Linked DNA regions of Homo sapiens. The protein of the gene in region 1 interacts with the protein of each later gene in a pairwise test. Each region holds a gene or a part of one and is shown on either strand. Other genes may lie near its edges.

The links. Proteins that work in one complex are often made in the same cells at the same time.
Region 2: the proteins of ARPP19 (region 1) and SPDYC interact in binary tests that used the Homo sapiens proteins (3 or more experiments, as listed by UniProt).

The regions. Positions count from the first base shown.
Region 1 is NC_000015.10:52,552,009-52,559,031, forward strand, and holds part of ARPP19 (cAMP-regulated phosphoprotein 19), read right to left. Parts: intron 5,215-7,023; coding exon 5,092-5,214; intron 97-5,091; coding exon 1-96. UniProt on the Homo sapiens protein: Protein phosphatase inhibitor that specifically inhibits protein phosphatase 2A (PP2A) during mitosis. Inhibition of PP2A is enhanced when ARPP19 is phosphorylated.
Region 2 is NC_000011.10:65,165,917-65,173,242, forward strand, and holds the start of SPDYC (speedy protein C), read left to right. Parts: upstream 1-4,316; 5' UTR 4,317-4,345; intron 4,346-5,410; 5' UTR 5,411-5,441; coding exon 5,442-5,583; intron 5,584-6,026; coding exon 6,027-6,085; intron 6,086-6,329; coding exon 6,330-6,415; intron 6,416-6,517; coding exon 6,518-6,689; intron 6,690-6,767; coding exon 6,768-7,098; intron 7,099-7,266; coding exon 7,267-7,301; 3' UTR 7,302-7,326. UniProt on the Homo sapiens protein: Promotes progression through the cell cycle via binding and activation of CDK1 and CDK2. Involved in the spindle-assembly checkpoint. Required for recruitment of MAD2L1, BUBR1 and BUB1 to kinetochores.

The DNA.
Region 1 (7,023 bases):
AGTGACCTCCGTCTTATCCGGAGCTGCAGTAGGAAGTTGCTTGTTCTTCATTTTTGCTTTAGCCATGTTGTAATCCCCAGAATCAAAATATTTTTGCTATAAGTAAAAACAAAAAAAATTCAGATTAGAGCTTAGCAATTACTGATTTAAGATGTCGATGCAACCCCATACTGTCCGTATAAGGTTGGTCTAAAAGAATTTAAACAGGAATATTAATTAGATGAAATAGTCTCTGTACTGAGTTCCAGCATAAGTCAACAGCCGAGAAGCCCCCCTTCAGACTGGGCACAGTGGCTCACTCTTGAAATCCCAACACTTTGGGAGGCCAAGGCAGGCGAAACACTTAAGGTCAGGAGTTCCAGGCCAGCCTGGCCAATATGGCGAAACCCTGTCTCTACTAAAAAAAAACAAAAAAAACAAAAAACAAACATTAGCTGGGTGTGGTGGTGCACATCTGTAACTCCAGCTACTCCAGAGGTTGAGGCTTAAGAGTCATGTGAACCTGGGAGGTGGAGGCTGCAGTGAGCCAAGATTGCCCCACTGCACTCCAGCCTGGGCAACAGAGACTGTCTCACAAAAAAAAAAAAAAAAAAAAAAAAAAGAACCTGCCTTCAGGCTTTCTTGAACCATTCTGGTTCTAATAAAGAACCATCAAGACTAATATAATATTAAGCTATTTGGGAAGTCCCAGACTCAGTGAAATAAAATCTTTCATTTACTAATGGAACAACCAGGTGAAACACTTGCTTAAATTATTTTATAAATAAAACACATAATTTGGCTGGGCATGGTGGCTCATGCCTGTAATCCCAGCACTTTGGGAGGCCGAGTTGGGTGGATCACTTGAGGTCAGAGGTCAGGAGTTTGAAACCAGAACGGCCAATATGGTGAAACCCCGTCTCTACTAAAAATACAAAAATTAGTCGGTTGTGGTGGCAGGTGTCTGGAATCCCAGCTACCCTGGAGGCTGAGACAAGAGAATCGCTTGAACCCGGGGTGTGGAGGTTGCAGAGAGCTGAGATTGTGCCACTGCACTCCAGCCTGGGCGACAGAGCAAGACTCTGTCTCAAAAACAAAAAAACCAACCCCCCCATAATTATAGTTATTAAAACTATTATTTACAGTTCCTGGTATTCTGTTATTTAGAACAAGTGTTTCTGCAAGAATTTAAATCATACTTATTTGAACTAGAGCAGTTTACCAAAAATTAAGGTAAAAATATAAATATTAGAGTAATGAAAGAAATAAACTCACTAGAAATTATTACTTAAAATGCATATCCCTACTCCACACCTCCTCCATTTTTCACAGAGAGACATGAAGTATGACTACTGCTTTTTTTTTAGCTGCCCTTTACCACTAACATGCAAATTGTGATGAGAGCTAAACATCAACCTTAATACAACTAACCTACTTGACTTCCAGAGCAAAAACATAAATTTGCCTGGGTTCTAACTTACACCTATCATGCTGAGCCCATCTTTACTGAGTGCCTGCTATATGTGAGGCACTATGTGAGAGCTGGAGTCAGATACAAAGATGGGACAATAGTCAAGTAAATCAACAATTACAATACTGCCTTAAGCACACACAGTGCTATATGGTGCTCAAAGAAGGGGGCTCTAATCTCAGTCTTGGGTTGGCAAAGGAAATAATCCAGGTATGAAACAAGGGCTTGGACAAAGGGTGAAGGGGAAGAAAACAGATAATATTTATGGAATCTTAAGCTAATATCTTCAGGGATACTTCATGTGATAAAACAAAATAGCTAGGAACTCACAGCTTAGTATAAGACTATTGAGTGGCCTGAGGAAAAAGTCTCATTGGCTGCTTTCCTCCACCACTTTTTGATAAGCCAGACCTGGTCTATGGCCCAAAGGCCTAAAGACAGAAACTGCTTTAATGTATTACTGTATATGTACCATACGGAACAGTAACAAGGAACCCTGGAACAGGCCCATCTAAAGCTTTCTGCAGCTTCACTTCTGTATGTTTTAAAATGAGCAGACAGAAAAACCTCAGAATTGTGATGCACTGTAATATATTAAAAAGCTATTTCTGAATTTTGTAGCCTCTAGAGGAGAACAAAGCAGCCTGCCAAATTTCTTATTTTGTCAGAAGCACATACTGAGAAATTTAACACACATGTAAATTTTAGGCAGATTTTCCCCCTATGTAATAAACGCAGTTTCTAATGTAAGTAATTTTATAGTAAGCAAAAGTTCATCACAAGGGGGTCTCAATTAACTGTAGATTAGGCTACTCTGCTTGGGGGAAAGGAATTAAATTTAGTGTGACTAGAGATAAAACTAAAATCAATGCCTGACAATTAGAATTGCCCTAAAAAGGAAAAGGTTACTGCAAAAGGCAGAGATTCAGCAAAGACAATAAAACAACAAAGATGTCAGAGAAAGAAGCTAATGCTTTAAGATAGAGAAGTGAACTAATGTTTATCAAATTGGGATCCACAGATAACAACGATGATGATATGTCTTTAACAATCTCTAAATTTCATGAGTTTGTAATGAAAATATTTAAAAATTAATTATGATCTAGATGACAATCTTATAAAAGCCTCCTCTCACACAAATTTATGGGCCATACTTACATCAGCATTTACAACTACACTGACACTAAGTGATCACCTAAAGTGGTAATGTTCAACTTTAAAGCCATGTTTCTTACAACTGGATTCTCTGTTTTCTAGGGACTTCACAACCCCTACAAATATGAAAAAACAAAACAAAAAGCAAAAAGAAATAAAAAATGTAAAAACAGGCCACACAGCTTCTTGATATCCCTCCCAGCTCTGATAATCTATGTAGTCATGTGTACACAGTCATATTGTTAAAAGCCTAATAATAACATTAACCTCATAATAACATTAATGAGTACAACACAAGAAGAGACCTATTATAATAATCATAATATCTAATCAAACCTTCTCAAATTAAGAAGCTACTTAAAGATGCTAAGGTAATTTGTCAAGTTTGCTAACTAGTGATAGAGGAAAATTAAAACCCAGAACCTGTGATCCAGAGTTTTAAAAAAAATCAAAACTTCATATAAAATAACTTATTCACTGACATTCTGTTATAATACAGAATCATTAAAGAGCTCACTTCTCAAATTCTATCTACTTATTTCTTGATTCAGTAGCATTTTCTTCATTCTCAACTATTTATATCTACAACACCAACTCCAAGATACAATGTATATGAAATCTGACTTGAAGATACTTAAAAATAAATAGTTCAAGCTAGAGAAAAATTACAGTGACAATTGGCCCAATGTTGGAAGAAAGCCTATTAGCCAAGGTTATGCTGGAGATTAGCAAAGAAAATATTTCCTAAACAATAATCAAATCAAAATAATTTAATAGCCAAAGATTAAATAATTTATCTCATAACTAAAAACACAGTTGTCATTCTACTTCTTCTATTTATCCCCTATATTATGATCTTTATGTTCTAAAATAACCACATAATACTATTTTATTGACTTACTTCAATTTATTTAATCATTTCTCTGCTGTTGAATAGTGGTGCTGCTACTAATTATAGTTATAAGCTATAAGGAGGACCTTCCAACTTGGAAGACTTTCCTTGTACTGAATTATACTCTTAGATTAATAAATAAGAGATTATTGATTTGAAGAACATTTTTATAAACCTTAATCCATACCCTGTTCTGAAACGAGTAATAATTTTTAATGTTTAAACACAACAAAGAGCATATTAGTTTCATTCAACTTCAACCTTAGCAATAGGTATTATTTTAAACATTTTTGCAATTTAGTTATATAAATACTATGATGTAATTTGCATTTCACTGATGTCTATAATATATAAACATTTCTCTGTTTTTTATATTTCCTGTTAAAATCCTTTATCCAGGAGCACCTTAAGTGTTTTTCTTGTACACTTAAAAGTTCCCTTTCATATATTTAAAAGTTTCTGTATGTATTTTAGACATTAACTAACATTTTTGTAATAACTTCCCTACTTGATTATATATTTCATGGTACGGGAGTTTTACATCTTCATAAATTTGGTGTCATTATTCCATCATCCTAGTATTTCAAAGCTGTGAATATTATTCTTTCATGTAAGATTAAAAATACCATTCTATTTTTTGCCACTTTAAAACAATCCATATGTACCTAGAGCTAATACACACACAGACGTGTTTTAAGCAAGGAGCCGATATCAGTATATGAATGTATTTAAGGAGAAACATGATTTAGCATCTCATTCAACAATTCTCTTCCGTAAGTAGTATTTCATCCTTCCCTGTATAGTAAGTAATTTGAATATGCTTAAGCTGAAGATGGAACTCTCTAATTTTTTACAGCAAAGGAAGGGGTCACAGGACAATACTTAGGGAACAAACAGGCCAGCATTATCTCAATCTCATTATTGAGAAATAATGGTATCTACCTCGCAAAACATGGCAAGAATTTGAAAATAATATCTTCAGTAATTTGAACTATGAAAATGAAAATGTTTAAATTGTATTAGAGTAAATCTGACTGTGAAACATATTACATAAAGGAGATAGCTGTGCATTTATTAAGTGATCATTTCATCCAAATAAGTATTTTAAGCTTTTGAATGTTGTGTGGGAATCACCTGCAAAAAATATGGAAGTTTCAAAATATGGGCAGAAGGATAAACACCAGCTTCTGGATAGTGGCTGCTTTTGGAGAGATAAGGGAAAGGGCTCATATTTACATATAGGGTGGGTTTCAACAGTATCTACAACATTTTCTTTCTTAAGAAAGATAAAACTGAAACCAACATGGCAAAATATAAACATTAAATCTGGGAAGGGGTATATGGGTTCTGTTATATCTGCACTATTTCTACATGCTTTAAATAGTTTATTATTAAAAATGCTGAAGAGTTGTAGATTCTCACAATGCTTATTTATAAACTGCAAAATATTGGAAAAACCCATTACAGATACATATACACATATGTACATACCTGATAAAGTACAATGCTATACGCACAGATATCCGTTTCACAATCTGTCAGCATACTGAGTTTGTAGGGCTTAAGTATTTGGAAATTACCCATGAGAACTTACCCCTTTCTGCAACCGTTTCCTTAAGAAATCTGAACCTCCAGGCTTTTGTCCCAGATGAGGATATCTTGCTTTTAATTTTGCTTCTTCTGCTTTCTCTGGACTAGTCACTTTATCTTCCATTTCCTAAAATAATTTCAAATAAATTACTTCTCTATTACAACTCAGTTATTTAAAATAATTCACCTTTAAAAATCTGGATTCTGAATTCTAGTTGTTAAATGCCAAGTACCACAGCATCTGACTAAGAAATCAAACCCAGAAGCCTTTAAAACATCTCTATCTTGTTTTTCAAAAGATCCATGTGATAGCTCTATTATAGCTGTGATGCATGTGTAACACCCCACACACTGGATAAAAATATCAAGATAGCTCAGCTCTGAAGTCTTGCTTGCCATTACTTTTCCAGTCATGTATAATACATTTATAGTTAGTCACCTTCTATGGAACTCTTCAGTTCTTTGCCTATATTTAGAGAATCATCCTAATACTGTTAAAATATACAGAATTTTTTCTATTTATCTAAAATTATGTATGATTTGAAGTTAGATTCTTTACTAGAAATTAACAGCAGCCTACTTATCAGTACATTTTTCTTGAATACAGATGATCCTGATATTTGTTTTTTTATAATAAATTTTTAATATTTTTATTATTTTAAATAATAGAGATGGGGTCTTGCTATATTGCCTAGGCTGGTCTTGAACTCCTGGGCTCAAACAATCCTGCCTCGACCTCCCAAAGTCATAGGATTACAGGCATGACCCACCATGCCTGGCCCATCCTGTTATTTTTAAAGAAGAGAAACATCATTTTTGTCAATCCTCACATCTATGTATATCATTGCCTAACTCTCCCCCATGTTTAAAATGACAAACTCTGTTCATGTCAAACATCCTATTCTTTAATATATCAAAAACCTGTTTCCTGACAGAACTATCAATTCTTCCATCTATTCACTTTGAACAACAGTCTTGATTTAGTCTGCTTTCTTTCAAAGTGCTATATTTAATAGGGAAGGAGTGTTTATTACTTCATGGCAAGTACTGCAGAAGAATTAATCAAGAAAAACAGACTGGGCACGGTGGCTCACTCCTGTAATCCCAACACTTTGGGAGCTGTGGGCGGATTGCTTGAAGCTAGTAGTTCGAGACCAGCCTGGGCAATATGGACAAAACCCAACCTTTGTAAAAAAGTTTAAAAATTAGCCGGGCATGATGGTACATGTCTGTGGTTCCAGCTACTCAAAAGGCTGAGGCAAAATGACTGCTTAAGCATGGAAGGTTGAGGCTGCAGTGAGTCATGATCACACCACTGCACTCTAGCCTGGGTGCATACCCAGGTCTAGCGAGAACTTGTCTCAAAACAAAACAGAAAAAAAAAAAAAAAGAAAGAAAAAGAGAAAGAGAAAAAGCTGTACTGAGATAGATAAACCGGGCAGCTGGCAAGGCACATTTTCTAAGTAATGGACTCATTTCTGCACATTAAATCAGCAAAATCACATACCTCTGCCTATCTTGAGCCTTCCAGGTTACTTAGGAATAGTCAAAGCAGGAATGTTAAATCCATAAATGTCAAACCTATGTTCTTATATAGCAAGCAAACCATTTATCTATCTAAGCACTGAAAGAAAAAAAAACTTCATAAAATTTTGGCATATATTTCACTCAAAATTATATTCATACATTAAAAAAAAAAAAAAAAGATGAAGATCCTGTTTCCCTTCCCTTTGTACCCACGGGGGGGAAAAAATTACAGGTCAGGCCATATTGCCCAAACTGGTCTTGAACTCCTGGCCTCAAAGCTATCCTCTCACCTCAGCCTCCCAATGTGCTGGGATTATAGGCATGCACCACCACATCCAGCTCTCATACATGTTTTATAATCAGCTTCATTCACTTTATATATTATCAGTATTTCATCCTGAACTGCTTC
Region 2 (7,326 bases), on another chromosome or scaffold:
TTGCTCTCGACCAACCCCAGCCCGGATCGATACTCCTTTCTCCCCTCCTTCCCCAGCTTTTCTTGGCACAAAGCCTCGTGCCTGGGAGAGGCCGCAGCGCACGACGGCGTGCGGGGATATGGTCGCTTTCTTTTTATTTACATTTATCTTGAAGTTTGGACCTTCTCTGCTTTCAAGTTATGCCGACGCTGTGGTTTTGGCAGCGTTTTATTTTTCCTTTCTTGTTGTCTGGGGCTGTGTGGACAGCAAAAGTTGGCGGATGGGGACCCAGGCAGCCCCTTGGGCCTCAGGACCCGGAAGTCCCCCTGGCTGGCTTGTGACTTTTTAAGATGGAGTTCAGTTCATCAGCGTGACAGCTTTTCTTATTTTCTAACACGCGCGTTTGAGGTCATAAATTCCTCTCTAAGAATTACTAGTTGTGTCCTCCAACTTTGACAGACAATATTTTCTTTCTTTCTTTTTCTTTTTCTTTTTCTTTTTTTTTTTTTTTTTTTTTTTTTTTTTTTTTTTTGAGACGGAGTCTTGCTCTGTTACCCAGGCTGGAGCAGTGGCGCGACCTCCGCTCACTGCAACCTCCGCCTCCCGGGTTCACGCCATTCTCTTGCCTCACCCACCTGAGTAGTTGGGACTACAGGCGCCCGCCACCACGCCCGGCTTTTTGTATTTTCAGTAGAAACGGGGTTTCACTATGTTGGCCAGACTGGTCGCTAACTCCTGACCTTGTGATCCGCCTGCTTCGGCCTCCCAAAGTGCTGGGATTATCGGCGTGAGCCACCTCGCCCGGGTACATTTGATTAATTTTTAGGAAGATGTTCTGTGCGTGCTTTCCTGCCTTTGTTGGGTGCAGTGCCAGCTTATTCGTCCACTAGGTCAAATTTCTTCATCATATTCTTCATATCTTTTACTGCTTTGCTAACTTTTTTGCCTTGCATGTGCCATCATATCTACAATTATGATTGTGATTTGTTTTTCCGTGTGGTTCTGTTGATTTTACACACACACACACACAGACACACACACATGCGGTTTCTTGCTTATTGACTTTATTTTTAGGAGTAAACAAATTACTATATATTTTTTTCTTTACCTGGATTCTGGTTAGGTAATTATACACTTTTTTTTCTTCCTTCCTTCCCTCCCTCCCTTCTTTCTTTCTTCTCCTTCCTTTTTCCTTTTATTTTTCTCTTCCTGCCTCTTTCCTTTCCTTTATTTTCCCTCCCCTCCTTCCCCTCCTCTTCTTACCGACAGGATCTCCCTATGTTGCCCAGACCAGCACTACAGGTGCACACCACCACATCCGGCTGTATATTTTTAAAATCACTACATAAATTCTCTTTCTCCCTAGTTATGCTTTTTGTCCAAAGTTGTGTTTTTTTGTTTGTTTTTTGTTTTTTTTTTTTTTTGAGACAAGTTCTCACTCTGTCACCCAGGCTGGAGTGCAGTGGTACAATCTTGGCTCACCAAAACCTCTGCCTTCTAGGCTCAAGCGATTCTCCTGCCACAGCCTCCCAAGTAGCTGGGATTACAGGCATTCGCCACTACCACCCACCTAATTTTTGTATTTTTAGTAGAAATGGAATTTCACCATGTTGGCCAGGCTGGTCTTGAACTCCTGACCTCAAATGATCTACCTGCCTCGGCCTCCCAACGTGCTGGGATTACAGGCATAAGCCACCGCGCCCGGCCTAAAGTTGTTTTAATATATTAGTGTAGTTATCCCAGCTTTCTTTTAGTAATTGCATATTATTTTTTCTATCTTTATATTTTGAAATTTTTAATATTCTTATTTATTTATTTATTCATGTTTTAGAGACAGGGTCTTGCTGTGTCACCCAGGCTGGGTAGAATGGCATGATAATAGCTCACTGCAGCCTTGAACTCCTGGGCTCAAGTGATCCTCCCACCTCAGCCTCTTGAGTAGATAGGACTGCAGTCACGTGCCACCATGCCAGGCTAGTTTATTTTTGGTAGAGATGGGGCCTTGATGTATTGCCCAGGTTAGTCTCTAACTCCTGAACTCAAATGATCCTCCTGTCTCGGCCTCCAAAAAGTGCTGAGATTATAGGCGTGAGCCAATGGACCTGGCCATATATATATTTTTTGAGCTGGTAGTATGTTATTATGTTTTATGTGTATTCTTTTATATCCTTTTACGTGTATCCTTTATAGCATGCAATATTAATATATGATTTTACAAATTATATATACATTTACATGAATATAAATTTTATAAATAGTATATTAGTTAGCATAGAATAAATTTTGCTGTGATAATTGTAGCAGGCAGAATAATGGACTCCCAAAGATGGCTACATTTCACTTCCCAGACCTGAGAATATGTTATCTCACATGGCAAAAAAGACTTTGCAGATGGTTAAGGATCTTTTTTTGAGACCAAGTCTTGCTCTGTTGCCCAGACTGGAGTGCAATGGCATGATCTCAGCTCACTGCAACCTCCACCCCCAGGGCTCAAGCAATTCTCCTGCCTCAGCCTCCCGAGTAGTTAGGATTACAGGCATGCACCACCATGCCCCGCTAATTTTTGTATTTTTAGTAGAGGAGGGGTTTTGCCATGTTTACCAGGCTGGTCTTGAACTCCTGACCTCAGGTGATCTGCTCTCCTCTGCCTCCCACAATGCTGGGATTACAGGGGTAAGCCACCTCTCCCAGCCAAGTTAAGGATCTTGAGATGGGGAGATTATCTGGGCAGATTGAAGAGCCCAGTGAATCATGGGATTCTGAAAAGTGAAAGAGAAAGGCTGGGCATGGTGGCTCATGCCTGTAATCCCAGCATTCTGGGAGGCCAAGGCGGGTGGATCATGAGGTCAGGAGAACAAAACAAAACAAAAAAATTGCCAGGCATGGCGGCACATGCCTGTAGTCCCAGCTACTCGGGAGGCTGAGGCAGGAGAATTGCTTGAGCCCTGGAGGTGGAAGTTGCAGGGAGCCGGGATTGGGCCACTGCACTCCGGCCTGGGCAACACAGCGAGACTCCGTCTCAAAAAAAAAAAAAAAAAAAGTAAAAACAAATATTCTCCCCAGTGTGGGAGATCGGTGTCAGATCTCCAGGGGTGGCACTGAAGGAAATCAGCCTGAAGGCCCTCCCAAAGTTAAAGTGACTAGCCCACTCCCAGGCTTCTTTTTGGTACACCTTCCTGATCTCTAACCTTAATTACTGGGGGAGGAGGAGAACAGTTGAAAACACAGCTGGTCTAGGAGATTCATTCGGTTTCATGGAACACCTTCTCTGTGCAGGCAGCGTCCAGGAACAGCTGTAGACCACACAGCCAGGCTACCCAGCGTGTGGGCCCAGCAGCCAGGCTGGAACTCTATCTCTACTTACCAGCTGAGTGGCTGGCAGGAAGTTACTCAGCCTGTCGGTCAGCAACCCAAACTCTGTGTGTTAGTTGTTTGTTCGCTGACAAAATGAGGCTTCTCATCATTCTCATCAACTTCACGGGCTTGCTGTGAGGAACACGTGAGCTGATTCCATCACAGACTCCTCAGTAGGCAGCAGTAGGTGTTTAGTGAACGGGCTATGGATGCTGCCCCACTCACTACTTCCTTTCTAGGGGAGGCCGACTTCAAATGCGTGCACACACACAAACAGGATGGCCTGATGCAGACCAGCTGGTCTAGAAAGGCCTTCACGGCCTCAGGGAGCCTGGGAGGCGGCCTGGGGGAGACCATGAAACAGCAGATACACCAGAGACCAGAGATCAGAGAGAAAACAAAGGACCCAGAGATCCACAGACATCCAGACACCAGAGGCAACAAGAAACTGAGAGACTCAGAGGCCCACTGAGACCCAGGCAGCTTGTTCTGTGTTACGAGGGGAAAAATAAAATAAGAAACAAAAGAGAGACTCGGGGGGCCTCAGTGAAACCTAGAGACTCAAGGAGGCCAGGAGATTCAGAGACACCCATAGAGAGCCAGAGACCCTGCCCTAGCAAGGCACAATCAATGAAAAAAAACTCGCCCACCAGGCCCTCGCAGTCCGGGTCTCATATCCCGGCTCAGCACCTTGGCGCTGCATTTGTCAAGAGGGGAACAGGGATCCTAGCTCCCTGCCTGTCCTATGGGGCCTTAGGCCCTGGGGTCCAGCTGGCCTGCCTTCACCCCTCTTGTAGTTGATGAAGCTTTGGAGAGGCTTTCAAACCCTGGGGAGCCACAGCTGGGTGCCGACTGGACTCACTGGCAGAGAGGCAGGCGGTGAAGGCCAAGCCTCGCCCCCCAGGAAGGCCCTGATTGGTGGACGGGCTGCTTTGGGCAGGGCCGCCCTCAGGCTATATAAGCGCACTCGCGGCGGCGTTGGTGTTATGCTCTGGGCCATTCCTGAGCTCGGGTAAGGCTCGCTGCAGGAGGAGGCTGGGTTGCTTGCGGGCGCCTAGATGGAGGGGCCCAGATTGGCCCTGGGGTGGTCGACCGCACGTTCTCCTCGGCCCCGTGGTTGGCTTCTCTCTCTCAGGGATGAGGGTGGGTTTAGGACGGGAGCTTGAAATGTTTGAAGTGGCCCCATCAACTTGCTCTAAATCCAGGTATTTTTCTAATTTCATTCCTCCCTGAGGGCCTCAGTTTCCCCTCGGTGTAAGGGATCAGTGGCCCTTTCAACTCTGCTTTGGTGAGGGGTCGGGGGTGGTTGTGAGTTGGGGCCTAGAGGAGCAGTTAAACTCTTGGGTTTTTTTTTTCTTTTTTTTTGGCCAGGCGCAGTGGCTCACGCCTGCAATCCCAGCACTTTGGGAGGTCAGGAGTGTGAGACCAGCCTGGCCAACACGGTGAAACCCTGTCTCTACCAAAAAAATACAAAAAAAATTAGCCGGGCGTGGTGGCATGGCGCATGCCTGTAATCCCAGCTACTCGGGAGGCTCAGGCTGGAGAATCAGTTGAACCCGGGAGGCGGAGGTTGCAGTGAGCCGAGATCGCGCCACTGCACTCCAGTCTGGGCGACAGAGAGAGACTGTGTCTCAAAACAAACAAACAAAAACCAAAAAACCTCTTGGGGTTTTGGAGACCAAGGGCTTCACTTTTAACCGGCTGTTAGGCCTCAGCTTCAGTTTCCTCGTTTGACGACCGGTCTGAGTTAAACTTACCTCCTTACCAGGATGGAATAAGATAAGGCCCTTAAGCACAGCCCCAGGCACTTAGGAAGCCCTCAGCGGTGCTTGTTGCTGCTGTTACTCTGGCCTGTCCTGGGGTGCCAGGAGGAGGGTGAGGGTGCCACACCCTCACCTATAGCAACTCTTTGCTTCTTTTCTGGCCTCCCCACTCTTGTTGCATCCCGGCTGCCTTCTGTTCTGAGCCCCCAAGTCTCTGCACCCACCCCTCCACCGTCCTGGCCCCTGTCACCACCCTCTTGATTTGTGAGCATCACGGGGGTACATGCTAAGTCCTGAGCCTCCTTTCTCTACAGGTCACCCTGCCCCATCTCCATCTCCTATGAGATGAGTGACTCCCAAGACCCCACCACTTCCCCTGTAGTTACCACCCAGGTAGAGCTGGGGGGCTGCAGCCGGCAAGGTGGGGGCAATGGGTTCCTCCGTTTTCGCCAGCACCAGGAGGTCCAGGCCTTCCTCAGCCTTCTGGGTGAGTTTGGAGGGCTGGCACGGGAGGGGCCGTGAGGTCAAGTGTGAAAGCAGATGTGAAGTGTGGGGTCTCACCTGCCTGTACAGACATCTGAGACCTCTGACCCTCTCCCTCTCAGGTATCCCAGCTTAGGCAGGTGGGAGGGGTGTCCTCTCAGAAACTGGATTCAGGGCCAGGCACCGTGAGTCATACCTATAATCCCAACATTTTGGGAGGCTGAAATGGGAGTATCACTTCAGGCCAGGAGTTCAAGACCAGCCTGGTCAACATAGTGAGACTCCATTTCTATTTATATTAAGAAAGAGAGAGAGAAAGAGAAAAAGGGAGAAAAAGAGAAAGAGAGAGAGGGTTCAGTGGTGGCTTGGGCTTTGGAGCTTCTGATGCCACTCTTCTCCATGGAGGTGGTGGTAACCTGCGTCCTGTCATGTCTTCTCTACCCTCAGAGGACAGTTTTGTCCAGGAATTCCTCTCCAAAGACCCCTGCTTCCAGATTTCAGATAAGGTGAGGGAGTACAGGCTGGGGGTCTCTTGAGGGTCAGGTTGAGTTGGTGGGAATTGAGTGCCCTGGTCTGGTAGGGAGAGCCACTCACCTTCCATCCTTACCCCCTCATCTTTGCACACCACTTCCCACCATTTTACTGACTTTCTTTCCCTGCAGCAAAACCTCCCTGGGTGCAAATGAACCTGGGTGCAAGCCCCTCCTCCTCAGAGAATAACTAACCCCCCACCCCGATCTGTCTCTGCAGTATCTCCTGGCCATGGTGCTGGTCTACTTCCAGCGCGCCCACCTGAAGCTCAGCGAGTATACCCACAGCAGCCTGTTCTTGGCCCTGTGAGTGGTGGGGGCAGGCAGTGGAGGCATTTGCTGGAGGTGTCAGATGGGACAGGGCAGATGTGTGGCCTCTGCTCCCTGACCTTGTGCCTCTGTGGCTAGGTACCTTGCAAACGACATGGAGGAGGACCTGGAGGGCCCCAAATGTGAGATTTTTCCATGGGCCCTGGGAAAAGATTGGTGTTTACGAGTGGGGAAATTCCTGCACCAGAGGGATAAGCTTTGGGCACGGATGGGTTTCCGGGCTGTTGTGAGCCGCCAGTGCTGTGAGGAGGTGAGGCTGGGAGGCAACCTGGGGTGTGGGGAAGGCTGGGGTTCCCACCCCATTTACTGTCCACTCTGCTCCTCCCAGGTCATGGCAAAGGAGCCATTCCACTGGGCTTGGACTCGGGACCGGCGCCCCCACCATGGTGGGGTTCAGAGGGTCTGTCCACAGGTCCCTGTTCGCCTTCCCCGGGGCCCTGGCCTCTCGCCGCCCCACTGTTCCCCCTGTGGTTTGCCCCAGCACTGCAGCAGCCACTTGCTTAAGCCTGTGTCATCCAAGTGCCCTTCTCTGACCTCTGAATGTCATCGCCCTCCCTCCCAAAATTATCTCTCAAGGGTCAAAAACGCCTGGGGTGGGGACTTTCTCATCGTCTTGCCTCCCCAGATGCAACTGGAACCAGGCACCTACTCCCTCCGCAGTGAGTGCAGGATGGGACAGGAGCTGGGGGCTGGTGTGGGAGCTTGGGAGGCAGGAGTGAGGACCAACAATATGAGAGAGAGGGCCATGGGCCTGGGGTCGACGTGCTGCCCCTCCCGTGTGAGCTTGGCAGGTTTCTTCTCTGAGCCTCACTCTTTCCTCTCCCCAGTCTTCCCAAAGCCTCCGGCACGCCCTGGGCACTGAAGCTCTGCAGGGTGAAGAACAGCAC